Linked DNA regions of Homo sapiens. The protein of the gene in region 1 interacts with the protein of each later gene in a pairwise test. Each region holds a gene or a part of one and is shown in the gene's direction. Other genes may lie near its edges. The genes, in order: PRDM6, GEM, IQUB and USP54.

The links.
Region 2: the proteins of PRDM6 (region 1) and GEM interact in binary tests that used the Homo sapiens proteins (3 or more experiments, as listed by UniProt).
Region 3: the proteins of PRDM6 (region 1) and IQUB interact in binary tests that used the Homo sapiens proteins (3 or more experiments, as listed by UniProt).
Region 4: the proteins of PRDM6 (region 1) and USP54 interact in binary tests that used the Homo sapiens proteins (3 or more experiments, as listed by UniProt).

The regions. Positions count from the first base shown.
Region 1 is NC_000005.10:123,099,212-123,106,240, forward strand, and holds part of PRDM6 (putative histone-lysine N-methyltransferase PRDM6), read left to right. Parts: intron 1-15; exon of another isoform or gene 16-326; intron 327-442; coding exon 443-750; intron 751-7,029. UniProt on the Homo sapiens protein: Putative histone methyltransferase that acts as a transcriptional repressor of smooth muscle gene expression.
Region 2 is NC_000008.11:94,252,309-94,259,337, reverse strand, and holds part of GEM (GTP-binding protein GEM), read left to right. Parts: intron 1-6,225; coding exon 6,226-6,302; intron 6,303-7,029. UniProt on the Homo sapiens protein: Could be a regulatory protein, possibly participating in receptor-mediated signal transduction at the plasma membrane. Has guanine nucleotide-binding activity but undetectable intrinsic GTPase activity.
Region 3 is NC_000007.14:123,524,595-123,531,623, reverse strand, and holds part of IQUB (IQ motif and ubiquitin-like domain-containing protein), read left to right. Parts: intron 1-3,272; exon of another isoform or gene 3,273-3,379; intron 3,380-7,029. UniProt on the Homo sapiens protein: Adapter protein that anchors the radial spoke 1 (RS1) complex to the A microtubule of outer doublet microtubules in axonemes. The triple radial spokes (RS1, RS2 and RS3) are required to modulate beating of the sperm flagellum.
Region 4 is NC_000010.11:73,581,322-73,588,350, reverse strand, and holds part of USP54 (ubiquitin carboxyl-terminal hydrolase 54), read left to right. Parts: intron 1-7,029.

The DNA.
Region 1 (7,029 bases):
ACATCCTGAAACTCCAGATAGAAACCTCAGGAATGGGCGAGAGGGTCAGAAGGAACGAGAGACAGTAGGGAAGAGAGAGAGAGAGACAGAGACAGAGGGAGAGATGCAGAGAGACTGAAACGGGAGGAAGAAGCCTGGAACTGTCGGTTCCGTGGAGAGCGGACATGCTATCTGCGCCCAGATCCGAAGGCTTTTTGGGGAGCCTAGAGTCCTGGCCCGGTACCAGGCAGATCTGGGTGCGGCGAATTCCAAGGGAGCGGCGCGGGTTCTCTTCTCCTCCTCCTCTGAGTTGCTTCGGTGCCCCCAAGGCATCACCTTCCTCGAAGGTGGCTTACCCAGGCGGGCGGTGATGCTGTTGTCTCGGGAGTTTACTCAAAGATGGGCCGCTCGGGGCGGCCGGATTAACCCGCTCCCTTCCCTTCCTCCTTCTTGTCTCCCGCAGGTTGCGACATGTGCGCGGACAACCGCAACGGCGAGTGCCCTATGCATGGGCCACTGCACTCGCTGCGCCGGCTTGTGGGCACCAGCAGCGCTGCGGCCGCCGCGCCCCCGCCGGAGCTGCCGGAGTGGCTGCGGGACCTGCCTCGCGAGGTGTGCCTCTGCACCAGTACTGTGCCCGGCCTGGCCTACGGCATCTGCGCGGCGCAGAGGATCCAGCAAGGCACCTGGATTGGACCTTTCCAAGGCGTGCTTCTGCCCCCAGAGAAGGTGCAGGCAGGCGCCGTGAGGAACACGCAGCATCTCTGGGAGGTAAGTGGCCGGCTGCACAGCGCCTCCCCACCGAGCAGGAGCCTTGGCCAGCAGGGAGCCTTGGCCGGCAGGGAGCCTGGCCTTTGGCTGTGGCAACTGCGAAGAGAGCCTCCCTTGGCCCCCAGAGGGTAGCGGAGAATAGATTTCTCTGGTCCTGTAGATGCCTGGTGTCTGAAGCACCTGCAGTAAGGAGGCTGACAGAGCTGGGACTGACACAATAGCAACCCAGCCAGGGAAACAGCCTACAGGTGTCTGAAGACAGAGTCACCTTAAGCTGCCTCCATTCCAGCTGGAATGGATTTGACCGTTGGTCTCTGTGAATTTTGAGAAAAAGAGAAAACAGCTGAGGAGATGGAGCAGCGGAGGGTGGGCATTAGAATGTTTGAGCTGGGTGACCTTTATGTCCCATTCCAAGCACTTCCAGTGTGTTTCTGTGTAGTGAGCAGAAAGGAACAGAAGCATAGAGGGGAGGAAGGAGAGGCTGGCCCCTTTTCTCAGATAAAAACAATTTTGTCAAAGTTGAACGTGAGAGATCACATGTTTCACAACTTTCAAAGGGCCCAAAGTAAGCAAATTATATTGGGAATCAAAGGGCCCAAATTAAGCAAATTATATTGGGAATCAGAAATCGCAAATTCTGCTGCTTCTCTGATGAACGGAAATTATGTAATCTTCATCAATATGGAAAATCAAAACATGGGAACAGTGTGAGCACTTTGGTGTAACCCAATTGAGGGTAATACTTTAATGGCACAATCTTACCTGAAGCAATTATTTAAAAATAACCTATTTGAAAAATGTCAGCCTGAGGTTTCTCCCAAAACATCATGGTGGATTATTGAGGTTCACTTCTGAAGAGATAGATGCCTATCATTAGGTCATCCCCCTACCAATCTTAGCCACCTCCATCCATGGAAAGTTGCTTATGTAATACAAGATGACAGAAGTCATACCCTTAAACAATATGTAAATCTGACTAACTGGGCAAGTGGTATAATAAAGTAGGAATAGCTAGAAAATAAAGTTTCTTAAATGCCAGGGGTCAGGTTGACATGAACCCCTGGGCTCCATTAATGCATCGTTTCTGCAAGAGATTGCCTCTCATACTTGGCTTGCTGGCCTGTCAAAATGATCTTTTTCACTGTGAGCTGCCTTATATTCACTAAATAAAGCTCATGGGACTCATTAATCCACTCAAATTTTTGATGAGTGCCCACTCTGGCCAGCACTATATTAGGCCATGGAGATACAGTATGAAAAACAGACCTGGTATCCGGAACCCTCCTGTGACTGTTGGGGATGGGGTCCTGAGGCCTGTGTCTGCAAAGCCTCTTTTGATGGAGGAGGAGCTGAGTGTATGAGTCTACAGCCCAGCAGCCCAAAATGAGGACGTGGAAGCCAATGAACTACCTACCCTATAGTTATCTGCTGGAGTGCCCCGGCTCAAAGCATCTGGTTTGGAAACATTTTGGTTTTTGTTTCTGACTAATTAATTGTAACCTCCAATGTGGTTTAAAGTTTATAAAACACTTTTAGGTACTTCTCATGTTCCAGTAGTGTTATTAGGAACTCTAATATCATATAGTTAAAGGTCTGCCAATATTTTTCTAAGAAAATCGTACAGCAATTGTTCAATAGTACAAATTTACTCTACCTGAAAATGTTAAAACTGAACACTATTATATTGCCCTTTGATGCCTATCTATTTTTAGAGTGCCAGGGGACAAAGACATAAACATGAACAAAAATCTCATAGTTCATTGTGGGTTTTTTCCCCCCCAGAAGGCTTTGAATGATTGGGATGTTGGCAGGAGGCCACTACACATATAGACTATAACAATGCATATTAACACTGAAAACTATGAAACCTTTCTTTTCTACCTTTACTTGTACTTGATGAAGTTAAAATTTTGTTGTAGTAAAGAGACTGGGGAATTTAGTCAGTGTTTTTCTTTTTCTTGATACTTCAGTAGATATAAAGTGAATTTTATCTATTGTTCAGGGCATGTGAGTTGAGTGTGCTGGGATGGTTCTTAGAGTTGGTTCTCTGTTAGAAAAAAGACTTGCTGGGTGTATGCTTGGATGATCTACAGGATCCAACTCCTAAATTCAGGACATAATCTATTTTTTTTAATTATCTGTAACAACAGTTAGAATAAGGTACATTTGGGAATTGAAGGGATTTTAAAACTTTAGCCATACAAAATGTGTCAGTCTCCTGGGAGATCACGTGAAATGCGACTAACTGGGGCCAGGTAACTTAGTGCCAATATCCATTTGTAAAATAAAATACTTACTTTATAAAATAGGTTTCAGATTTTTATTAGCATAATGATTTTTAAGATATAGAATATGAGTTTAAAATTTTTAAGCATTATGATTTATTTTTATGAAACATGACCGTTTGAATTGTTACATTTATAATACAATATTCCAAATGTTAGATTGTTCCTTAAATTTTAGTTCTTTCTTTCAAAGCTAAATTTTCTTCTGAAATTTAAAAAAATCATCATATTATTCACATTAGAATCAGTAAGTAGAATACATTGTAGGTCTATCGGAAATGTTTGGCAATAATTGTTTAATGACTCATGTAATAATTATCCATTTCAAAAACTTATTCTTTTAGATGTCTTCCAGAATAGCAAGTCAACAAAATGTATTAAAAAAATTAAAAGCAGTTGAATCATGATTATTTTATTTTAAAAGGCAACTGTAATCATTTCTCTTCCTCACATTTTTTCAAGTCATTTGCTGATGAAGAAATGTCTTTTTATTTCAAGTTCAATACTCAGGTCCTGATGGATCTTACCAGGGTTACTTATCTTTATTTCAGTACAATAAATGGATTGCTAATCTTTTCCTGTCACTATTTCCAAGTAGATGATGGATTTTTGTTTCAGTTTACACTTCATTGTTTTTAGTATGGTTGTACTTTATTATACACATGAAGGCTTATTACAGAAACAATCAGATTCACCTTAGTTACTCCTTTTATTTAATCATTAGAAGCTCTATTTTCTTTGTAGAAAAATGACTTTTTGTTATTTAACATACATCAGCCATGGAGAGCTTGTTTGGTTTGTAAGCATGCAATCATTGTTTTAGTTAATATTTTCTTTGTGTATAATCATAGTTCTTCAAAATACAGCAATTTAAAGGAAGTTAAATATCATTTCATTATATTCAGTACATTTTGACTCTTCTGGGTATTTATGGGAAATTCCAAGAGAGTTGTTTTTTCTTTTTTTGCAATAAGCCAAGGTAATTTTTTATTTTTTATAGTTTAAGAAGATTACAAGCTAAAAGCCAAATAATTAGTCATTTATTTTTGCTAGTTTCTTTTAGAATCAGAATTTTAATGTGTTTTTTAAACAATAATAAATTCAGATACTTTAAAACAAAACATTACAAGGTGCATCAGACAATGACTTGCCTTGGTTATATATATTTATTCCAAGACTTGGATGCATGATACATTTCTAGCTATTTGGACATCATATGAAATAAAATCTTTCTCAATGTTTTCCAAAGAAAACAATCTTTCTCAGCAATTAGGTCTTATTGATGAGAATGAGATAATTTTATCCTAATGTGTTTTCCAATAAAGAAGTGAAAAGGCACATTTGATTCCAACATTTATGAAAACATTATCTCAATTATTAATGTGCCCCCTTTCTCTTGAGATAAATTAATCTAGTTGCACACGGTTTCCTCTTTCTGCTTAACATCAGAATTTAATATGACTGGACCTGAGGAATGTACCCAGTGTATACTTAAAATTCTACTGGAATAAAATACGGAAGTTTAAAATAAGGTTACAGTTTAAGATAGGCTAGAATTACTCAGGCCTTTCAACTCAGTGCCTGACTTGACAAGAAATTTTAGCAAGAATGACAAAATAAATTGCACTTATTTTCACCCTAGAAAAATTATCCTGCTAATTGAAATAATGTAGTGACTTGTTAGTAATACAGTTAAGATACTAGAAAGGGCTTTAATTTTACAGAACCTGTCTTCTCTTTGCCTGAGTAAATTTGAGTGTCTCGTTTTCATTTGCACTATGTGGAAACCTTCATTATTTTTCTTCAGAAAATCAAGGGGGATAACATAATGTGAGCCTTTTTGTGATTTGGTTTTGTGCCATAATATTTTAGATTTAATAAGAGTTTTGCTGTTAAGCAAATGGTCTATTTTTCATCATTACTGCTTAGCTTAAGTCAAAATATATTAATGAAAACCAATATTAAAAATATATTACACATTGCTAAATGTTTATATTTCAAAACCATCATAGGTAATTGGTTCTAGAAGAAAATGAATTGATTTCATATTTTAAATATATTATGTATGTTTCTATAAATGACTCAATTTCATATATACAGTACTATACCCACTTATATGTATTTAGATGTTGAAAAAATTATTTTAAATTAATCATTTTCAATTAAATTAGAATCACTTAAAAGTTGTCGCAGTGATAGTACTGTAATTATATATTCCATATTCTGCTTTATAGACTTTGGCTCATTTTGGCGTGATTCACCAAGACACTAGGGGATAGAATTATGTAGCTGTCGCAGTTATATTGAAGTAAAAATCATGTTTTTCAGCAATTTATCATTTAATATAATAGTCTGCCTGTCAGTTTGGTTTTGAATATGTCAAATTTGTGAAATTCAAATAATTTCTCCTTAAAAATAAACCATAGTAATGCTACTATTATGTTTTAAATTATGCAGAGTAACAGCTGGTGTATCTCTCTGGCTTTGCCTCATTTGATTTGAAGATGTCTTTTATAGTGGTGCCTATTTGATAGAGTGTGAGCATTTTGTAGTTTTACATAAACTGTAAAACCATCTGCCACCTCTTGGAATGGTTTCCAGCATTGTGTTAAAAGTCAAAACTTAGTACTTTAAGTTGCTTTGAAAATGTCCATTTAAAGTTCTGGTCCTTTTGGTTTATGTATCATGCTGCACAGTGCCACCCTTGGTTTTCTAAGTCCGAGAATAATTCTGCTTTAAAAAAAAATTATAACAGCCATTTGGACATTCTCACATCAGTGAGGTTTAATCCCAACATGCATGTGACACTACAGTGCTTTAGCTGCAAACACTTTATAAAGACTGATGAGTTCTGTATCCACCGGATTATTTTTCTCATTAGTTCAGTTTATCTATTTTTACAAATTGCTTCTTTTATCAATAGCATTTTCTCAATATGAAGAAAATAATTCACAAATATTTACTGGTCCATAACTGCATATTTTCTTACACCATGTAATTTTTTTTTCTTTTCCCACACTGACTTAAAAGTAAGGTATAAAAAGAGAAATCAGTATCTCAGAGGTTAGTGGGTAAATGAAACCTGCCCTCCCCAGTCACTGCCTGGCAGCAAGTGATCTGATGGAAATGTCATACCATAACACTGGTCCCAAGAAGCCTGCAGGGGAATCTTCTTATTTCACTGTGTAAATTAAAGCAGTTTTAATTTGAGAATATCTATTGTGTTACCCAGAAATCACTTACAGTTGTAGTATAATATGGATTAAAAATTGTTGTGATTGAATATGAAAAACTACACATTACTCAGCTGGGGAATATGCCTACAATATCAAAGTCCTCTTGTCTCAGAAGATGGATTTAATACACTGGTAGTATGGGAAAAACCATTTGCTATTCTAAAGAACCCTATATGTAGAACAACTATGAGCCTGCCTCCTTCGTTCTTTTTCTTTCATTCTTTTTTAGGATCGTATATACCCCAAGATTTCATTAGTTCAGACATTCCTTGTATATTTACACAGGAAATACAGACTTCGGTATAAGTACTTAGCATAAAAGTCAGAGAAGCCAGAGCAGAATATACTTTTCCTTGTAAGCATTTGCCACCTCACTCAAATAAGTTACAGAATTCCATTATCCAAATTGTTACACATGTGTGACAGAGGTTGACCTTTCGTCATGTCAATCCTTTTTGTGTAGGCCCCAGGCTCCAGCCTAATGGCTCAAACCCTGATTTACTCACTGTAATAAGGGCAGGAGGTCGAGCAATTGTCAGGCTGCCTGTTCGTACTCTTCTTGGAGCCTGGTTGAAGGCTGTTAACACAAAGCTTTTCAAAGTGAATTTACAACCAGCACCACTGACAGAGGCCAATCAGTGCACCATAAATGTCAGGTTAGTGAGATTGAGCAGTAAGTAAAGTACTGACAGCACACTATTGGCTGGAATCAATTGGCCAAGGTTTAACTGAGAAGAGCAATCTATGTGTGGCGGGCT
Region 2 (7,029 bases), on another chromosome or scaffold:
GTCACATGGTCTGTGTTCTGTCGCGACTCACAACTGAATCACAGAGTAGGGAGGTGTCTTAGCGATGACTCAGTTCTCCCCTGCATTGATGCATATTAATGTTATTCCTCACTACCCACAGCCCATCTCATCTGGAGGTTTTATTCTTCTTGATTGTCTCAGTGTCAAGGAGTTCACTGCCTCATGAGGCAGCTCAGGAACTGGGCTATAAATAATGACTCATTGTTGTAACATTGATTTCTCTCCTCACTCCTGGAATCTCAGAAGAGTAAAGGGAGAAATAGGGCCAGTGTTGTACAATTGATTCCCTCTTTCTTTGTAAAGGCTGCCAGGTGACTTGCTAGGAAAGAGAAACGGGAGGAAGGGGCTAGCATTTAGAGTGAATGTTTGCAACGGGAGAGGCACTTTGTTAGGTGCCTTATATTTGCTGCTGTTTATTTTGGTCTTCACAAAGTTCTTGTACTCATGAGTAAACTAAGTCTCAGGGAGATCAAAAGCCTTATCCAGAATCACCCAATAAGGAAGGTGGATTTAGAATTTGGGATTTTATCATCTTAGTTCAGTTCATTTTACCATTTCTGGGGAACTTGCTATGTGCCAGGCACTGTGTTAAATACTTCCCACACATATTTTTGATAATACTTGAATCAATCTGGCATTAATATACCTATTTGACAGGTGAAGAAATGGAGGCTTACAAAGTCAAGTGACTTTCCCAGGGTGAAAAAACTAGTACATGGTATGACCAGGATTCAAATCTAGTTGTGATTGAACCCAAATCCTGTGTCTTTTCATAGCCCCCTGCAGCCCCAGGATTTAGCTTCCAAATACTAAGTATGACAGCACATTGGGCATCAGCCACACACCTGGCTCTGGCCTAAGCTCTGGGATACAAGGCGATGGATGAGGTATACCATGCCCCCTAGTAATGAGCTAAGTGTTAGTTGCTATGTTGCAGAGCAGGGTCACATTAACTAATATTTTAAGCAGTAACGATACAGTGCTTTGGGCGTTGACATAAGGAAGAGATGGACTGGGAGTTGTTTTTTGTTTTTAAGAGGGAAGAATTGAAAAAAGTTAGTGGATAGTAGACTTTCAAAAATGTTTGTCCATTAGAATGGAGTTGTATGTATCCAGAGGGTAATATTCCCATAGGCATAAAATGTTAAGAAGACTGACTCATACCTGGAATTTGGAAAGGTAGCCTTCCCAGATATTTTGGGAACTTCTTTGTTGAGAGAGAGAGAGAGAGATGCCCAATATGACAGCACATTGGGCATCAGGCATATGGCTGATCCTGGGGCCGCAGGGGACCATGAAAAGACACAGGATTTGGGTTCAATCATGAGAGAAAGGGAATCCTTTCCCTAGCTTCTTACACAGAGAATCTGTAGGACCTGCTGGAATCACTAGTTGGTTTTGTTTCCCAAGAGGAAGGTTTTCTAAGGCACACCCCTACATTTTTTTTTTTTTAAATCAGCATTCACTGTAAGAAAAAAAATCGACATAATATTCTCATAATGATTTCTCCTAATAAAGATGGATATTGTTACAGTTACACTACAGTAATCTTATGACTCTCTGTATACACTGAATGCCATTCATTCATTCATTCATTCCTAAGAAGTTACTGAATGTATAGCACAGAGCTTGGTGAGGCACTCTGGGGACATGCAAAGAGTCATGGGGCTTCTTCTGCGGAGATGCTCACAGTATGCAATGGAGCATAATGTATACACCAAGTAGAAATTGAGATAGGATGTGGTAAATGTCTTGAAAGTGGTGTAAGGAGAGTGCTGTGGGAATTCCGAGGCGAAAAGATTACCTCTGACTGTGGATTTAAGAGCTTCATGGTTGGCCCGGCATGGTGGCTCATGCCTGTAATCCCAACACTTTGGGAGGCCGAGGCAGGTGGATCACCTGAGGTCAGGAGTCCAAGACCAGCCTGGCCAACATGGTAAAACCCCATCTCTACTAAAAATACAAAAAATTAGCCGGGCGTGGTGGCATGTGCCTGTAATCCCAGCTACTGAGGAGGCTGAGGCAGGCGAGTCATTTGAATCTGGGAGGTGGAGATTGCAGTGAGTCGAGATCTCACCATTGCACTCCAGCCTGGGCAACAAAAGTGAAACTCCATCTCAAAAATGAAATAAAATAAAATAAAAATAAAAATAAAATAAAATAAATAAAATAAATAAAAGCTTCATGGAAGAGATGGTCTCTGAACTGGACCCTAGGGACAACTAGGATTTGGAAGCCCTGAGCTAGGTGGGAAGGCACACCACACATATATAGCAAAGTACGGAAGTCTCATTGGGCTTGGGGTTTGATGATGGGTTTAGACGCAGCTCTGACACTGACTTGGCTGGGTGCTCTTGGACAAGCCACTTAGCCTCCTCAAGCTGCCTCATTAGTGTAATTGGGGTAATACCTCCTTCATAGGGTGTTACGAGGATTAAAGGATATAACATGTTGAGCATGGAGCATGGTGCCTGGCACATAGTAAGTACGAAATGAGCATTAGTTAGAGCTGATTCTGAATCTACCATTTCCTTTTGATGTGCTTATCTTTCAAAAGTGGTGGTTTCCTTGCTTGTGGCCCCTGTCCACTTTGGTCACTGTTGGCTGGGGCCCGTGGAGCTGTCCAGAGGGGACCGGGGCCAGTAGAGTAGAGGACAGTATTTGTAGAGCAGGCATTTCTTCTGAGGTTCCTTGGGATCCCCTGAGCTATGAAAGCTGGAAGCAGTTGAAAGTTTTCAGGGAGAGGGATGCTGGAGTCTCAGAACTTTAGAGGTGCTGCAGGAGTCAGTTCTGGCAGTGAGAGAACACTTGGGCGGGTTTCACACACACACAGCACTTGAGCCAGTCTTGGGCAGAAGGGGCCTCACTTCCAAGCACAAGGAGTGTTAACGAAAAAATTATTAACATGGTAAGGAAGACTTTATTCAGGGCCATTGCAGTAGGCATCCCAATAGTGGGGAGAGATGGGGCTCAATTCCAAGTACAAGAAGAACAAGTGGGCACTTAGCCAAGGAGCAGGTGGGAGGGGGTCAGAGGATAGAAAATTACTAAGAGGAGACGTCAAGGTTAGGGGGATTCTTGCTGAAGTCAGGCCAAGGAGCAGGTGGGAGGGGGTCAGAGGATGGAAAATTACTAAGAGGAGACGTCAAGGTTAGGGGGATTCTTGCTGAAGTCAGGCCAAGGACTTAGACTATCAGAGGTGGTGGGTGAGGAATTTGATCAGATATTGAAGGTGGGGGATTCTCACTAAACTGACTTAGCAGGATTCTTGCTAAAGCTGAATTCTGCCAGGATGGAAACGGAAGCCCAGGGAGAGGCCGGGTAGAGAAGAGGATTCAGAGGAGCCTGACTAAAGTTTGGTCAGGGAGAGAGTCTGTCAGGGGGATCAAATGAGGAAAGACAAACTGGTCTAGAGAAAGTGGCTACTGACCACCATCACCCCTTATAGAACGTCTGTCTGTCCCCATCAGCATGAGTTCTTTTGCTACATAGAGTGTGCACAGACACCCCAGCTTTCTTCCAGTGCACTGGAGAAGTAGGGGTGTCTCCAGACCCAGATTACGGAAAAGCCTCACAGAGACTAATCAGTATCCAAACCTTTCTCCACACCTTTACTGGAAGCAGATTTCAAAGAGCTCTCCTAGAGTCTGGTATTCTTTTCCTTCCCTTCTTCTCACCTGATTAGCACTTGAAAAGGATAAAAGATGAGCTGAGCAACTTAGATGAAGAGAAACCTGGAGCTCTGGTTACTCCCAGGCTTGCACCTGGTTAGGGGAGAGCCTTCAGTCGGGATGCCATGTGTGCTGGAAGGGTCCTGGTGCACACAGCCAGAGGCCGTATCTAAACTCATGTACTGGGGTGGGGGGTAAAGTGGGGAGCACACGTGCTGAGCAGGGAGGAGATGGATTGTTTTAGCCTCCCAGGCCTCCAACACCGTAATTTTCAGGCAAAGGTAAGATCAGACAGAATGATCCTGTCAGGAAGCTTCTAGAACGGGAAAGCATGTTTTTACTTTCATGGCTGTGATCCTTAGTCCACTTTTTCTCTAGACTTGTTCTGATATCTCTTAAGCCAGGAGAAAGTTGGGTTTTCCTTTTCCGTCAGCGATTGGAACACAGTATGTTTCTATTTGAATGACTGGGCACTCAAGCGAGTCCCCTGTACCTGAGTGGTGGGCTGAGAAAGTTCCTCCATCATTGAAGGAGTTGTCTGAGTGCAGGGAGGGGTTTTAGAGAAGAGCTAAGAACCCTGTGGTGGGAAGCAGCAGTCAGGCCATCCCCGTTCTGTGCTGCTCAGGCTCTGACAGTCTCCCTTGCGTTGTCTAATTTACAGGTTGAGGTTGTGAGGTTCTACCCCTGGTAATCCAAATAGTCCCACTGTGATCTCATTCCTTCTGCATATTGTGAGCAGGCACACGATGGGCGAGACAGAGTTTTAATTCCCCAAGGGCAAACACTTACTGATTAGAAGAATGACGCTGTGGGAGGTGGGGAAACTCACAGAAAGACAGGGCCATGCCTGGTTAACTCTCTTCTTATTTGTCCAAGTTTTCCTTCTCTAAGGAAGGGAAACCTCTCCTGATTCCAATTCTTAGATGATGAAGCATTAAACCAGGAGCAGTGTTTTTCGTAAACTGCTCGCTATTGTAAAACAAGAAGTGCCCTGGTTCCAACGTAGCTCTCTTAAGCTAGGATTTATCTGTAGTGAGGAAGTGCTGAGTATGGCAAGAACCAGCTTCCTTCACCTGAAGAAGTGATAATGGCTAACACTGACTGAGTTTCTACTTTGTGCCCAGGCTTAATACAGGTAATTGTCACATAGCCCTAAGGTGTGAGTACTATTATCAATCCCATTGCACAGATGAAGAAAACTGAGGCTCAGAGAGCCTAAGTTGCGTAGACCCCCAGAGTTCATAAGGGATGGCACCTGGATTTGAATTCAGGTTTGCTTGTTTTCACAGCCACAATGCTATATTTATCATTCGTTCACTGTACAAACTTTATTGTGCACCAGCAATGTACCAATGTGCTGGGGGACACAGTAAACAGCATAGATGCAAATGTCTGCCCTAACATTACGAGAGGGGCAGGAGGGACAGAAAATAATAGAATAAGTAAGTTAAATGTGTTGTATGTTAGGTGGCAATAAGTGAGATGGAGAAACATAAAGCAGAGAAGGAATATTGTGGGATAGAAGTGTTGCAATTTTAAATGGATGGCCAGGAAGCACCTCCCCCAGAGGGAGGTAAGGAAACAGGCCTTGTGGGTATTTGAGGGAAAAGATTCTAGACAAAAAGAACAGAAGAAAAATGATAAATCATTATGAAAGTCATAATTTTCAAAAGATGAAATTCAAAACAGGAAACCTCATTGTGAAAATAGAGTGGGGATGGGCTCAATGGTATTGGGATGAGGGAAATCCCACTTGCAAAAATCCCACTGTACCCCTTTTCTACGCCTGCCCCCCATGGATTTTCCAGGCTGGAACTGCTTTGGCCCATTGTACTGTACTGTGTTCACCCTTCACCTACACAAGATCTGGGCTCAAGTGCAGGGAGGAAAGTTTCCATTACCAAGTAGAGCTGGAGGCTGCATTTCTATTATACTCAAGATGGAAAAACAAGCCCACTTATTCCTAGGGAACAGCATTTTTTTTAAAAAAAGGAAGAAAACTACAGCCAAAACAGGGAGAGTCTCAAGATTCATTCTTGCACTTGTCCGAAGAGGAGCAATGTCTCTGAGCCCAAAGCTCCTGAAATTGCTAGTGAGTATTCAGTAACTACCCACTGAAAGGTACAATGGACTTATGAAAATGTGGCTTACAGTTTCACTGGGTGGTTAATGTTTCCTCATAGCATTAACCATTGAATCTGAGTCAAAAGCTCTTGAGTAAGTTTATCCTCACAAATGATTTTGCCATACAAAAGGTCCAGGAATGATGCAAACAAATGCCTTTTACTCCATGTGGTTTAGTGACACATGTTCGAGAGAGACGTTCTGCTGGATAAGGACTGGAGGAATTATATGTAGAATGTTGTTGAAGGTGACAAAAAATAGTAATTTGCCTTTGAAAATATCTGTATACTTACATAATTAATTGCATATTTAGTAAGTTTATGTTCTAGCACAATTTTCTACCTGACCCTCTTATGGAGAAGTGTTGCATATTCGCCTGACTCCAATATCTTTGTTCTTTCTTCTCTAGAAGATACATATGAACGAACCCTGATGGTTGATGGGGAAAGTGCAACGATTATACTCCTGGATATGTGGGAAAATAAGGTATGCAGAGCCTGTAGCTCTCTAAATTCCTTTAGGGCTTTCCTTTCAACAAGTTGTTTGGTGCAAGGGTGACCTTGTCCTATATAGTAGGTGTTCCAGATGAGGTGGGCTCATTTTCTTGATTAAAAGCATACTGCTGAAGAATGAGACTGTTCTAAGGAACAGGTCGTTCACAGATGAGTTCTGAATAACAAGCAAGTTGTAGTGACTTGCCTTTAGTTCTATTAAAAAACACACCCAAAAAGTTTATTTGTTTTAGGGAAAATACAAACAGGCATTGACTGTTATTTTAAATAACATACATCCATCTCATATGAAGTTGAGATTCTCAATACCAGTCTTCAACATTGGCTTTTTAAAGATTTTAAAAAGCTTCAGAACCTATGTGCTAGACTTCTGTTAATTGAAAACCCTCCTAGTCCCACAAAAGTGTTCTTAATCTCATCACTTGGAAAAGGCAAAAGGGAGTTTTTGGGAAGTCAGAAAAGGCTCATTTTTGGTAGATTAAATAGAAATTGGAAATGCTGTTTGGCAGAGAAGTTGTGTAATTTATCAAATCAAGCTGTAGAAGATACTGAAAAGTGAAAACTTTTTGGCATAAATACTGGACAGGCTAGCAATCTTTACAGCCACCAGACATCTTATAGGCATAGAAGACCAATGCTTTTAGGGAGTTGGAAGCGATTTTCTTCCTTTTTCCTATTTTTCCTATCAGCAAGTGTACTTT
Region 3 (7,029 bases), on another chromosome or scaffold:
TCTTAATTTGATTTGAAAATTATGATCAGGAAAATAAATAACCTGAATATATGCTTAATAATATAAGACTTTGAGTTTGCAAAACAGAAATCCTGACTTGACTAAAATACACTTTTCATTTGACGGAGACCTTTAGTTAAGGAAAGATTAGTTTTAGCATTCAACATAACTAAATACCCAGCATTATGTTTTACGGTTTTTTTCAACAATGATTTATGTGTCGTGTTTGGTGTTGCCTCCAAGCAGTACCTAGGATAGCTGATGCTTTTACTTTGAGTCTTTTTCTTTAGTTGGAACATTAATTGCAAGCTTTTGGTTGGTAATCATTTTTTATGGGATGTATTTACTATATGGTCCTCACGGAGACACATTGTTATCTGGAGAACCACAGTTTGGAAAATACATTTCTCTTTATTATAAAGTTTTTTGTTTTATATATATAATGCCACAGTGTGATAGGATACAAAGACTATGCATTAGGGCTTTGGAGTCTTAATTGTTCTTTGTGTTTTTCTTTTTTTCCAATTTGATTATGGATCCGAACCTAATGCACTCTGTGATCTTAAGCAAGTTTCTTGACAGTTCCAGTTTTCCTATCTACAGAGACAAGAAGATCTACCTCAGAGTCATTGTAAGGATTAAATAAATTTGTAAAGCTCTCAAAGAGCAGCCTAATCCCAGCATTTTGGGTGGCCGAGGCGGGCGGAGCACCTGAGGTCAGGAGTTTGAGACCAGCCTGGCCAACATGGTGAAACCCCGTCTCTGCTAAAAATACAAAAATTGGCCAGGCATGGTGGGGGGTGCCTATAATCTGAGCTACTGGGGAGGCTGAGGCAGGAGAATTGCTTGAATCTGGGAGGTGGAGTTTGCAGTAAGCCAAGATCGCGCCACTTCACTCCAGCCTGGGCAAAAAGAGTGAAACTCCATCTCAAAAAAAAAAAAAAAAAAAAATCAAAGAGCAAAAAGGTAAAAAGTTTGTGCAGAGTAAAAAATGGGTAGAAATGGATTACAGGGAAGCTTATAGTGAGAACAAACCATAAATAAAATTGACATTGTGAACACCAGCCTTAGATTTTTTTTCCCTGAAAATTAAAAAGTGCTTTTTTAAATTTTTTTATTTTTTGAGTTGGAGGGTTTTTTGGTGTTGTTGTTGTTGTTTGTTGTTGTTTTGTTTTTGGTTTTTTGTTTTTTTTCAGAGTCTCCCTCTGTCGCCAGGCTGGAGTGCAGTGGCGCTATCTCAGCTCACTGCAACCTCCGCCTTCCAGGTTGAAGCGATTCTCCTGCCTCAGCTTCCCGAGTAGCTGGGACTACAGGTGCCTGCCACCATGCCCGGCTAATTTTTTGTATTTTAGTAGAGACGGGGTTTCACCATGTTGGCCGGGATGGTCTCGATCAGGCGTGAGCCACTGTACCGGTTGAGATGGAGTCTTGCTCTGTTGCCCAGGCTGGAATGCAGTGGCATGATCTCATCTCATTGCAACCTCTGCCTTCCAGGTTCAAGTGATCCGTGTTTCAGCCTCCCCAATAGCTGCGATTGCAGGCTCCTGCCACCACTCCCAGCTGATTTTTGTATTTTGTTTTGTTTTCTTTTTGAGATGGAGTCTGGCTCTGTCGCCAGGCTGGAGTGCAGTGGTGCAATCTTGGCTCACTGCAACCTCCAACTCCCTGGTTCAAGCAATTCTCCTGCCTCAGCCTCCCGAGTAGCTGGGATTACAGGCACATGCCACCACGCCCAGCTAATTTTTGTATTTTTGGTAGACACAGGGTTTTATCATGTTGGCCAGGATGGTCTTGATCTCCTGACCTTGTGATCCGTCTGCTCAGCCTCCCAAAGTGCTGGGATTACAGGCATGAGCCACCGCACCTAGCCTGTTTTTTTTTTTTTTTTTTTTTTTTTTTAAGTAGAGACAGGGTTTCACTATGTTGGCCAGGCTGGCCTCCCAACTCCTGACCTCAAGATCCGCCCACTTTAGACTCCCAAAGCGCTGGGATTACAGGCATGAGCCACTGCATCCAGCAGAAAATTTAAAAATTAATATAGATTATTGTTTATATATAATTGCATGCATTTAAAAGTTCGATCTTTAACATAACTTTAAAAACTGATTCTTAAAAAATAAATTATCCTATTAAAACAAAAAAAAAACACTAGAGACAGCTTAAATGTCCATCAATGAACAACAGTTGACTACCATGTGGCTTAGCCTTGCAAAGAAGTTACTGTGAAGTTGTTGAAAAGAATGCGGCAGAATCGTATTTTACATAAAAATAAATGTTAAGCACGTATTATAAAAAGTCATAAAATAGTATTAAAGTTTAAAAATAAACAGAAATATAGTTTATGAAAGACATTGATATGATCATAAACAAATTTAAATGTATATATATTATATAATTGTAGCTTTATAGACAATTCCTGGAAAGATAAACTGCCTAACAATGAGAAATAAAATTAGCATGTCTGAAATACTTTTACTTCTTATTTTATCCCCTTCTATTCTGTTAGTTTTTTTTCTAGTAAGCACATATTACTCTCTTAAAAACAACAACAAAATGAATGATAACAATAATGAAAAAATGATTTTGAAAAGTCTTTTCCAACTGTAGCTTTCCAAACTGGGTTGGAAGATCACATTTTACATTTCACACTTTTAATATGTGTACTTTGTTATTTACATTTAATATTTGCTGCAGTGAGAGTTTACACATATGTATGCAAGTAGAGCATATTAATATGTACATATGAGGGGGTATTAGGAACCAATAAAATTAGCTCCTTGTTCTAGATGGGTGAAAAAAAATCTGCTGAATATTTTTTACTCTATTTTAAATCATAGTCATGTTTGTCACTTAAGAATAAAAGACATTCTCTGATAATATATCTGATGGCAAAATTGTTAGTTAAATTCTGGATCTGACTACCACTAACCTACCATGAGGCATTCCTGGGTCTTAGCTTTTTCATCTGCAGGGAGATCAGTTTCTAGACTTTTTCTTCATCACCAGGACCCCTTTTCTGTTCTCCTCCCAATCCCCCATGGACTCCTACACTGAGATACAGCACAGTTAAGTGGTTAAGGGCATGGGTTCTGGATCCAGACTGCCTGGATTTGGATCCCAGATATACTGCCTACTAGCTCTGGGTTCTTGAAAATATTGCTTAACCTCTCTGTGCTAATTTCTTTATCTGTAAAATGGGCATAATGATATCATCTGTGAGAATTAAATAATTTGGTATAAGTATTTGCTAATATTATGCTTTATTTTAAAAGTATTTTTTTCGGGGAGGAGTCAAGATGTCCAAATAGGAATAGCTCTGGTCAACAGCTCCCAGCGTGAGCGACGCAGAAGACGGGTGATTTCTGCATTTCCATCTGAGGTACAGGGTTCATCTCACTAGGGAGTGCCAGACAGTGGGCGCAGGTCAGTGGGTGCGTGCACCGTGCGCGAGCCGAAGCAGGGCGAGGCATTGCCTCACTTGGGAAGCGCAAGGGGTCAGGGAGTTCCCTTTCCTAGTCAAAGAAAGTGGTGACAGACGGCACCTGGAAAATCGGGTCACTCCCACCCGAATACTGCGCTTTTCCGACAGGCTTAAAAAACGGCGGACCAGGAGATTATATCCCCCACCCGGCTCGGAGGGTCCTACGCCCACGGAGTCTCGCTAATTGCTAGCACAGCAGTCTGAGATCAAACTGCAAGGCGGCAGCGAGGCTGGGGGAGGGGCGCCCGCCATTGCTCAGGCTTGCTTAGGTAAACAAAGCAGCTGGGAAGCTCCAACTGGGTGGAGCCCACCACAGCTCAAGGAGGCCTGCCTGCCTCTGTAGGCTCCACCTCTGGGGGCAGGGCACAGACAAACAAAAAGACAGCAGTAAACTCTGCAGACTTAAATGTCCCTGTCTGACAGCTTTGAAGAGAGCAGTGGTTCTCCCAGCACGCAGCTGGAGATCTGAGAACGGGCAGACTGCCTCCTCAAGTGGGTCCCTGGCCCCTGACCCCCGAGCAGCCTAACTGGGAGGCACCCCCCAGCAGGGGCAGACTGACACCTCACACGGCCGGGTGCTCCAACAGACCTGCAGCCGAGGGTCCTGTCTGTTTGAAGGAAAACTAACAAACAGAAAGGACATCCACACCAAAAACCCATCTGTACATCACCATCATCAAAGACCAAAAGTAGATAAAACCACAAAGATGGGGAAAAAACAGAGCAGAAAAACTGGAAACTCTAAAAAGCAGAGTGCCTCTCCTCCTCCAGAGGAACGCAGTTCCTCACCAGCAACAGAACAAAGCTGGATGGAGAATGACTTTGACGAGCTGAGAGAAGAAGGCTTCAGACGATCAAATTACTCCGAGCTACAGGAGGAAATTCAAACCAAAGGCAAAGAAGTTGAAAACTTTGAAAAAAATTTGGAAGAATGTATAACTACAATAACCAATAAAGAAAAGTGCTTAAAGGAGCTGATGGAGCTGAAAACCAAGGCTCGAGAACTACGTGAAGAATGCAGAAGCCTCAGGAGCCGATGTGATCAACTGGAAGGAAGGGTATCAGCGATGGAAGATGAAATGAATGAAATGAAGGCTACAAGCCAGAAGAAAGTGGAGGCCAATATTCAACATTCTTAAAGAAAAGAATTTTCAACCCAGAATTTCATATCCAGCCAAACTAAGCTTCATAAGTGAAGGAGAAATAAAATACTTTACAGACAAGCAAATGCTGAGAGATTTTGTCACCACCAGGCCTGCCCTAAAAGAGCGCCTGAAGAAGCGCTAAACGTGGAAAGGAACAACTGGTACCAGCCGCTGCAAAATCACGCCAAAATGTAAAGACCATCGAGACTAGGAAGAAACTGCATCAACTAATGAGCAAAATAACCAGCTAACATCATAATGACAGGATCAAATTCACACATAACAATATTAACTTTAAATGTAAATGGACTAAATGCTCCAATTAAAAGACACAGACTGGCAAATTGGATAAAGAGTCAAGACCCATCAGTGTGCTGTATTCAGGAAACCCATCTCACGTGCAGAGACACACATAGGCTCAAAATAAAAGGATGGAGGAAGATCTACCAAGCAAATGGAAAACAAAAAAAGGCAGGGGTTGCAATCCTAGTCTCTGATAAAACAGACCTTAAACCAACAAAGATCAAAAGATACAAAGAAGGCCATTACTTAATGGTAAAGGGATCAATTCAACAAGAAGAGCTAACCTAAATATATATGCACCCAATACAGGAGCACCCAGATTCATAAAGCAAGTCCTGAGTGACCTACAAAGAGACTTAGACTCCCACACATTAATAATGGGAGACTTTAACACTCCACTGTCAACATTAGACAGATCAACGAGACAGAAAGTCAACAAAGATACCCAGGAATTGAACTCAGCTCTGCACCAAGTGGACTTAATAGACATCTACAGAACTCTACACCCCAAATCAACAGAATATACATTTTTTTCAGCACCACACCACACCTATTCCAAAATTGACCACATACTTGGAAGTAAAGCTCTCCTCAGCAAATGTAAAAGAACAGAAATTATAACAAACTATCTCTCAGACCACAGTGCAATCAAACTAGAACTCAGGATTAAGAATCTCACTCAAAACCGCTTAACTACATGGAAACTGAACAACATGCTCCTGAATGACTACTGGGTACATAACAAAATGAAGGCAGAAATAAAGATGTTCTTTGAAACCAACGAGAACAAAGACACAACATACCAGCATCTCTGGGATGCATTCAAAGCAGTGTGTAGAGGGAAATTTATAGCACTAAATGCCCACAAGAGAAAGCAGGAAAGATCCAAAATTGACATCCTAACATCACAATTAAAAGAACTAGAAAAGCAAGAGCAAACACTTTCAAAAGCTAGCAGAAGGCAAGAAATAACTAAAATCAGAGCAGAAATGAAGGAAACAGAGACACAAAAAACCCTTCAAAAAATTAATGAATCCAGGAGCTGGTTTTTTGAAAGGATGAACAAAATTGATAGACCGCTAGCAAGACGAATAAAGAAAAAAAGAGAGAAGAATCAAATAGACGCAATAAAAAATGATAAAGGGGATATCACCACCTATCCCACAGAAATACAAACTACCATCAGAGAATACTACAAACACCTCTACGCAAATAAACTAGAAAATCTAGAAGAAATGGATAAATTCCTGGACACATACACTCTCCCAAGACTAAACCAGGAAGAAGTTGAACCTCTGAATAGACCAATAACAGGAGCTGAAATTGTGGCAATAATCAATAGCTTACCAACCAAAAAGAGTCCAGGACCAGATGGATTCACAGCCGAATTCTACCAGAGGTACAAGGAGGAAATGGTACCATTCCTTCTGAAACTATTCCGATCAATAGAAAAAGAGGGAATCCTCCCTAACTCATTTTATGAGGCCAGCATCATCCTGATACCAAAGCTGGGCAGAGACACAACCAAAAAAGAGAATTTTAGACCAATATCCTTGATGAACATTGATGCAAAAATCTTCAATAAAATACTGGCAAACCGAATCCAGCAGCACATGAAAAAGCTTATCCAACATGATCAAGTGGGCTTCATCCCTGGGATACAAGCCTGGTTCAATATACGCAAATCAATAAATGTAATCCAGCATATAAACAGAACCAAAGACAAAAACCACATGATTATCTCAATAGATGCAGAAAAGGCCTTTGACAAAATTCAACAACACTTCATGCTAAAAACTCTCAATAAATTAGGTATTGATGGGACGTATCTGAAAATAATAAGAGCTATCTATGACAAACCCACAGCCAATATCATACTGAATGGGCCAAAACTGGAAGCATTCCCTTTGAAAACTGGCACAAGACAGGGATGCCCTCTCTCACCACTCCTATTCAACATAGTGTTGGAAGTTCTGGCCAGGGCAATTAGGCAGGAGAAGGAAATAAAGGCTATTCAATTAGGAAAAGAGGAAGTCAAATTGTCCCTGTTTGCAGACGACATGATTGTATATCTAGAAAACCCCATTGTCTCAGCCCAAA
Region 4 (7,029 bases), on another chromosome or scaffold:
TATGGATGGAGGCTGAGACAGGAGAATTGCTTGAGTCTGCGAGGCGGAGGTTGCGGTGAGCCAAGATCACGCCACTGTACTCCAGCCTGGGTGACTGCGAGACTCCGTCTCAAAAAACAAAAACAAAAACAAAAAACAACAACAACAAAGGATACATTTAAGAAAAAAAAAAGGATACACTTTTCCCCATTTTTTATATGGCCTTGGGATTTATGCTATCAATTATAGTTTAATCTCCTGAAATTTTTATAGTAGTTATATGTGTGTGTGTGTTTGCCTGTAAGAGAAAGAGAGATGGGGGAGAGATAATGCATATAGAGGATGGTCAGTCATCATAATCACAGTTACTCTTTATGGAATTCCTGTTTTGTACCTGGCCCTAAGTATTCTGCGTACATTATTTTGTTGCATCCTTTCAGCAGATCACATTTATTATAGGTAGTAAATGGCCTGAATGTGATGGAGCTAGGATTGGAATGTAGATTCATCTTATTCTTCATCATCATTATCCTCACCATAATCATCATCAAAACATTTATTCCACACTTACCACATATTAGGCACTGGGCTAATTATACGTATCTACATTATTTTATTTAATTCTTATAACAATCCTATGAGATAGATGTTATTATTAGTCACATTTTTTCTGATGAAGTACCTAAGAGTTAGTTCAATAACTTGGTCAATATGCCACAGCTGTTAGATGGTGGAGCTGAGACCTGTTCTATTCCACTAACTCTGTGTCCCCAAGTTGTATAATTCACATAATGTTCTCTAGGAATGGGACCCTTTGGATCTCCACTAAAAGCATGTTACCTCCCGAGGTTCTGCAATATTGTTGGCCCTGCAGAGGGTGCACTTTTTGTTTTTTTTGAGATGGAGTCTCGCTCTGTTGCCCAGGCTGGAGTGCAGTGGCGCAGTCTCGGCTCACTGCAAGCTCCGCCTCCCAGGTTCACGCCATTCTCCTGCCTCATCCTCCCGAGTAGCTGGGACCACAGGTGCTCGCCACCACACCCGGCTAATTTTTTTGTGTTTTTTAGTAGAGACGGGGTTTCACCGTGTTAGCCAGGATGGTCTCGATCTCCTGACCTTGTGATCTACTTGCCTCAGCCTCCCAAAGTGCTGGGATTACAGGAGTGAGCCACTGCACCCGGCCTGCAGAGGGTATACTTTTAACCACTATGTTCTTTCTACTACCATGCTGCTTCCTTTAGAAGTCAGTAAATTATACAACTTTAGATCTTTATAAGGAAGGGCTAAGTAGCCTGCAGCTGTCATTTCTTAGTTCTTATAATTTGTCAATTATAACAAAGTGAAACGTGCCTTTTTGTTTTCTTTCCAACTACTTTTTAACAAATTTTAGACAAATTTGTTATACATGACAGTTATCTAAGTTCTTGTGCAGGAAAAATAAGACTTTTTGTCCTTTATCAGCATACAATTCTTCTGTTGTACATGATGTAATAGTTTGAAGCTGCCAAAGTCCAGCCCTCAGGAAATTGTTTGAGTTGAGTAACTATTCGCTGGAGAGTTTAAGATAACCAGCTCATAAATCAACAAATAGCTTGGCCCTTTTTATGGTTGTAGATGCTTATCTCTTTCTATTTTCAAGCTTGAATCAGAAGCAAATATTGTTTCCATTTATATAGTCACTATTAGAAAAAGTTGTCAGCAGTATCTCAAGCTAGATAAGGCCATTTTGTGAGTTCTTTTCTTTAAGGAGAGTCAGAATTTATCAGGATGTTAGAATTGGTTGTTCTAGGCTAGGTACCTTCAAACAAAAAGTTTTCTCTTTCAATGAAACTGTCAGTGATTCAATGCCTATTATATTCAACCTCTGTGTGGAATTAGAAAGATGCCCTTAAGACAAAATGTAGTCCACGTACCCAAATAACTGTAACATGAGGGAGAATGTGAGTATTGTAATCCAAACCCCACCATGCACTGAGAGCACAGAGGAGGATGAAATAAATTGGGAGATTGGAAAGGTGAGAGGGTGAGAGAATGATCTGGGAAGGCTTTTCCTTGTAGGATAGTTAAGATTTTCAGCAAGAATAAATGGAGAGGAAAGGCATTCCAGAGAGAGGCAATATTAGAGTCAAGACAATGAGAAAGTAAAGGACAGGGTATATTTGTTATAAAGAAAGGAGTCTAGTGTACTTGGAGTGGAGGATGAGTGAGAGGCACATAATGGATGATCAATGAAATGTTTGATCAGTGAGTGAATGAGTAGATGAAGCTGGAAATGGTGGTAAGGTCCGGTGATTCTCAAACTTTACGCTGGTGCCAGACATATTTAATTCTATCTTATAATTAGGAATTAATTTTTTTTTTCTTTGAGCTGGAGTCTTGCTCTGTCACCAGGCTAGAGTGCAGTGGTGCGATCTTGGCTCACTGCAACCTCTGCCTCCCGGGTTCAAGATTCTCCTGCCTCAGCCTCCTGGGACTACAGGCACGCGCCACCACGCCCAGCTAATTTTTGTATTTTTAGTAGAGACGGGGTTTCACCATGTTGGCCAGGATGATCTTGATCTCTTGACCTCGTGATCTGCCCACCTCAGCCTCCTAAAATGCTGGGATTACAGGTGTGAGCCACTGTGCCTGGCCAGGAATTAATTTTATTGGCAGAATATGTGAATATCAAAAATATGCAGCATAAAAATCACAATCATGAACATGATTCAGTGATATGATTTGGATGTTTGTTCCCTCAAATCTAATGCTGAAATGTGATCCCCAATGTTGGGGCCTAGTGGAAGGTATTAGATCATGGGGGTGGATCCCTCATGAATAGCTCAGTGATGAGTGAGTTCTCACTCAGTTAATTCACACAAGATCTGGTTGTTTAAGAGAGCCTGAGACCTCTCCCTTGTCTCTCTCGCCATGTGACACCTGGGCTTCCCTTTGCGGTCTGTCATGATCGTAAGCTCCCTGAGGCCTTGCCAGAAGCTGAGCAGATGCTGGTGCCATGCTTCCCATACACAGTGCAGAACCATTAGCTGATTAACTTCTTTTCTTTATAAATTACCCAGCCTTGGGTATTTCTTTATAGCAGTGCAAACATGGCTTAACACTGTCAGTTAGGAAAAAAGGTGTTAAAATAGTTCCAATTGACTGCTTTGATTTTTTTCCCTCTTAATTTTGCTACTATTTGTTCAAGTTTCTGTAGTGCTAGCAGTAGACTAAGTAGGTAAGAAAAAATTATGGTAGAGAAACTTATGAAAAATCCATCTATTAATTTTCTTTCCTGTGAATTAGAAAAATACCATTGTTCTTTTCCAGCCAAAAGAATATCTCCCTCTAGGAGCCATTAAATATTTTGAAAAGGAGTGACATGGTGTGGAATGTGTTTTAGGAGTCAGGTGGTAGTGACATGTAGGATTAGAGGACTGGCAATGAGTCAGTAATGTGGTGCAGTGGTCCAGATGTGGTGAGGATCTGAACCTTAGTAGCAGCAGCAGTGAAAATAGAATGAAAGGAAATAGAGATCCACACCAGGCCCTCTGTTTCTAAATAGGAAATAGTTACCAATTATTAACCAGCTTTCATATTGTTAGGATATTACGGGTCTCAATGGTCGGTTATCTCTGGTCTCAAGTCCTTTCACTCTATTTTTAGGGAAAATGTGTTTAAACCCCTATTTTAAGGAAATGATAGTTTATAGATTATTTATAAATTATAGTTAATTTAGAAAATAGAAAAAAGGAAAAAAATCCATAATTTCATCATCCTAACAAGACCGCTATCATTTTACATTTACTTACCCCGATGTTGCTGAGTTTTAAACTTCTCTGTTAATTCATTCTGCGCACATTTAGCTCTGAGAAACAGGTTTCTGAACTAATAAAACACCCAATAATTGCCATACTGTGATATTAAACAGTAAACCAAGAGGTTTCACATATAACCCTCAGTGGATTGTAGGATCACAAACTACGTCAACGTCTCTTCTTTTTTTTTTGAGACAAAGTCTCACTCCATTGCCAGGCTGGAGTGCAGTGGCGTGATCTTGGCTCACTGCAACCTCCGACTCCCTGGTTCAAGCAATTCTCCTGCCTCAGCCTCCCGAGTAGCTGGGATTACAGGCACATGCCACCACGCCCGGCTAATTTTTGTATTTTTAGTACAGATGGGGTTTCACTATGTTGGCCAGACTGGTCTCGAGCTCCTGACCTCGTGATCTGTCCGCCTCGGCCTCCCAAAGTGTTGGCATTACAGGCGTGAGCCACTGTGCCCGTTCACATCTCTTCTTTTCCTATAAATCAATCTTGGTCCATCTACCTTTAGACATATAAATATTTATTTCCCAAATGCCTCAATCCCTTTTGGGCCCAAAGTTCCATCTTCTTCAGTGAATTATTTGCATAATTTAAAATGTTTTTTATTTTGAATTTATAGAAAAGTTGGAAAAATAGTTACCTCTAATGATACCATCTTATATAACCATAATACATTTATCAGAACCAGGAATTAATAGTATTGGTATAACACTATTAACTAAAGAGCTTTCCTGAATTTCACCAGTTTGCCTACCATTATTATTTTTCCTTTTTTATTTTCAGTTTTTTTAAATTGTAATTTATTTTTTTTTTATTTTTAAAGACAGGGTCTTGCTTTGTCACCCTGGCTGGAGTGCAGTGGCACAGTCATAGCTCACTACAGGCTTGAATTTCCAGGCTCAAAAAGTCCTCCTGCCTCACCCTTCTGAGTAGCTGGGACTACAGGCAAGCATTAGCCTGGCTAATTAAAAAAAATTTTTTTTGGCCAGGTGCAGTGGCTCACGCCTGTAATCCCAGCACTTTGGGAGGCTGAGGCGGGCGGATCACCCGAGGTCAGCAGTTTGAGACCAGCCTGGCCAACATAGTGAAACCCCATCTTTACTGAAAATACAAAAATTAGCTGGGCGTGGTGGCAGGCGCCTGTAATCCCAGCTACTCCAGAGGCTGAGGCAGGAGGATTGCTTGAACCCAGGTGACTGAGGTTGCAGTAAGCCAAGATCGCGCCATTTTACTCCAGCCTGGGTGACAAGTGAGAAACTTTGTTTCAAAAAAAAATTTTCTTTGTTTTGTAGAGACAGGGTTTCGCCATCTTGCACAAGCTGCATTGTTCTTTTTCTGTTCCAGGATCCTATCTGGAATCTCACATTGCATTTTAGGTGTTTTTCTTCCTTACTCTTCTGTATTCTGTAAAAGTTTCTTAGTCTTTCTTTGTCTTTTATAACCTTGACATTTTTGTAGAGTATTGATCAATATCAGTTTGAGGGCTATTTGTCAAATATTCCTTAATTTGGATTTGTCTGATATTTTTCTGATGATTGGACTGAGATTATGGTTTAGGCAAGAATACCACAGAAATAATTGTGTCCTTTTCAGTGCATCATATCATGGCATTCATGATGTCAATATGTATTATTACTGGTTATTTTGACCTTGATCACTTGGTTAAGGTAGTTTCTGCTGGGTTTCTCCATTGTGAAACTACTATATTTTCCTTTGTAGTTAATAAATGCCTTAGTGGAGATACTTTGATACTGTCATTTTTATTAATGTCATGGAGTTCTCTACACATGCAATTAATAGTGTCTCCTTAAAGACTTTATTGAACTTTAGTTACTGTGAAGTCAATTAGCTTAAAGAGTCCATCTCCTTGGATGGGCGCAGTGGTTCACGCCTGTGCCACCGCATGGTTCACAACTTTGGGAGGCCGAGGTGGGTGGATCACTTGAGGCCAGGAGTTCAAGACCAGCCTGGCCAACATGGCGAAACTCTGTCTCTACTAAAAGTACAAAAATAGCCAGGCATGGTGGCGCATGCCTGTAATCCCAGCTACTCGGGAGGCTGAGGTAGGAGAATTGCTTGAACCCGGGAGGTGGAGGTGGCTGTTGCAGTGAGCCAAGATCGCATCACTGCACTCCAGCCTGGGTGACAGAGCGAGACTCTGTCTCAAAAAAAAAAAAAAGTCCTTCTCCTTAGAAACTTCCCACACTTTACACCTGGTTTTATCAAAGGGTTCCCAGGCTTTGCACGAACAAATTCTATCTAGTCTTCATTGATTTCAGTTCCATTCTAGCTCTGCTCATAATGAATCTCTTATGCTAATAACCTGTAGCTCTCTGGGCCTCATTTACCCCTCTGTCTCTTAGGGCGCCAGGCTCCTCCTGGCCCAGTGTCCTTCCAGGCCTCATCTCCCTTTATGCACAAGCCAGTTCCTTTGAATGACTGCTTTGGGTTTTTTCCGAAACAGGCTGAGAGAAGCTGACTTTGTTGGTGAAGAATACAGTGGGGGATAATTAGGGTGGCTGCAGCTGGAGCCTGGTTTATTACTTTGGCCTGAGAAAAATGGTAGCACATTAAGCTGTACTGTGTATACTTGTGAAAGAATCATTCTCTGTATTTCACTAATACAGAGAAAGTGTTTTTTTCTAAAGGTCACCAGCTTCTAGAGGTATGTCTTTAATTCTGGCAACCTTAATCTGTAATGATCTTTTCAATTTAGCCCTGTTGACTGTGGAGTTACTTGCTGTGAGCACAAGAATCCAAAATCCAAATGTGGACCAAATATTATATTTAGATCTATTTAGTTCAAACAAATTTTATACAGTGAATAACATTAGATGTTTCTTTGATTAATAAAATACAAATTTATTAGTATTACTGAATTCAAAGTAGCTTTTTGAATTATGTATTTTCTCAAGTGACATATACTATAAAAGCCCCATTTATGTAATGTGGATGGGGCAGACTTAGATTCTCTGACACTTGAAGCTTATGCAATTCAGAGGGCCTCCTTTAAGGAAAATATTTTTTGAAACAGAAAATGAGATATTGGGCCTTGAGAATCTGTGCAAGAGAAAGAGTCCTGAAGCTTAAGTTTCAGTGGCTTGGTAAATCTGCCTCTGGATGTGAGGCACTGCAAAAAGGTTGAGACCCACTGTTTTCCATCATTTCATACATGGAAAGGTTTTTGGCTTACCCACAGGAGGCTAGTGTTTTCAGATTGGGAACAGTGGGACATATAACTTAGTAA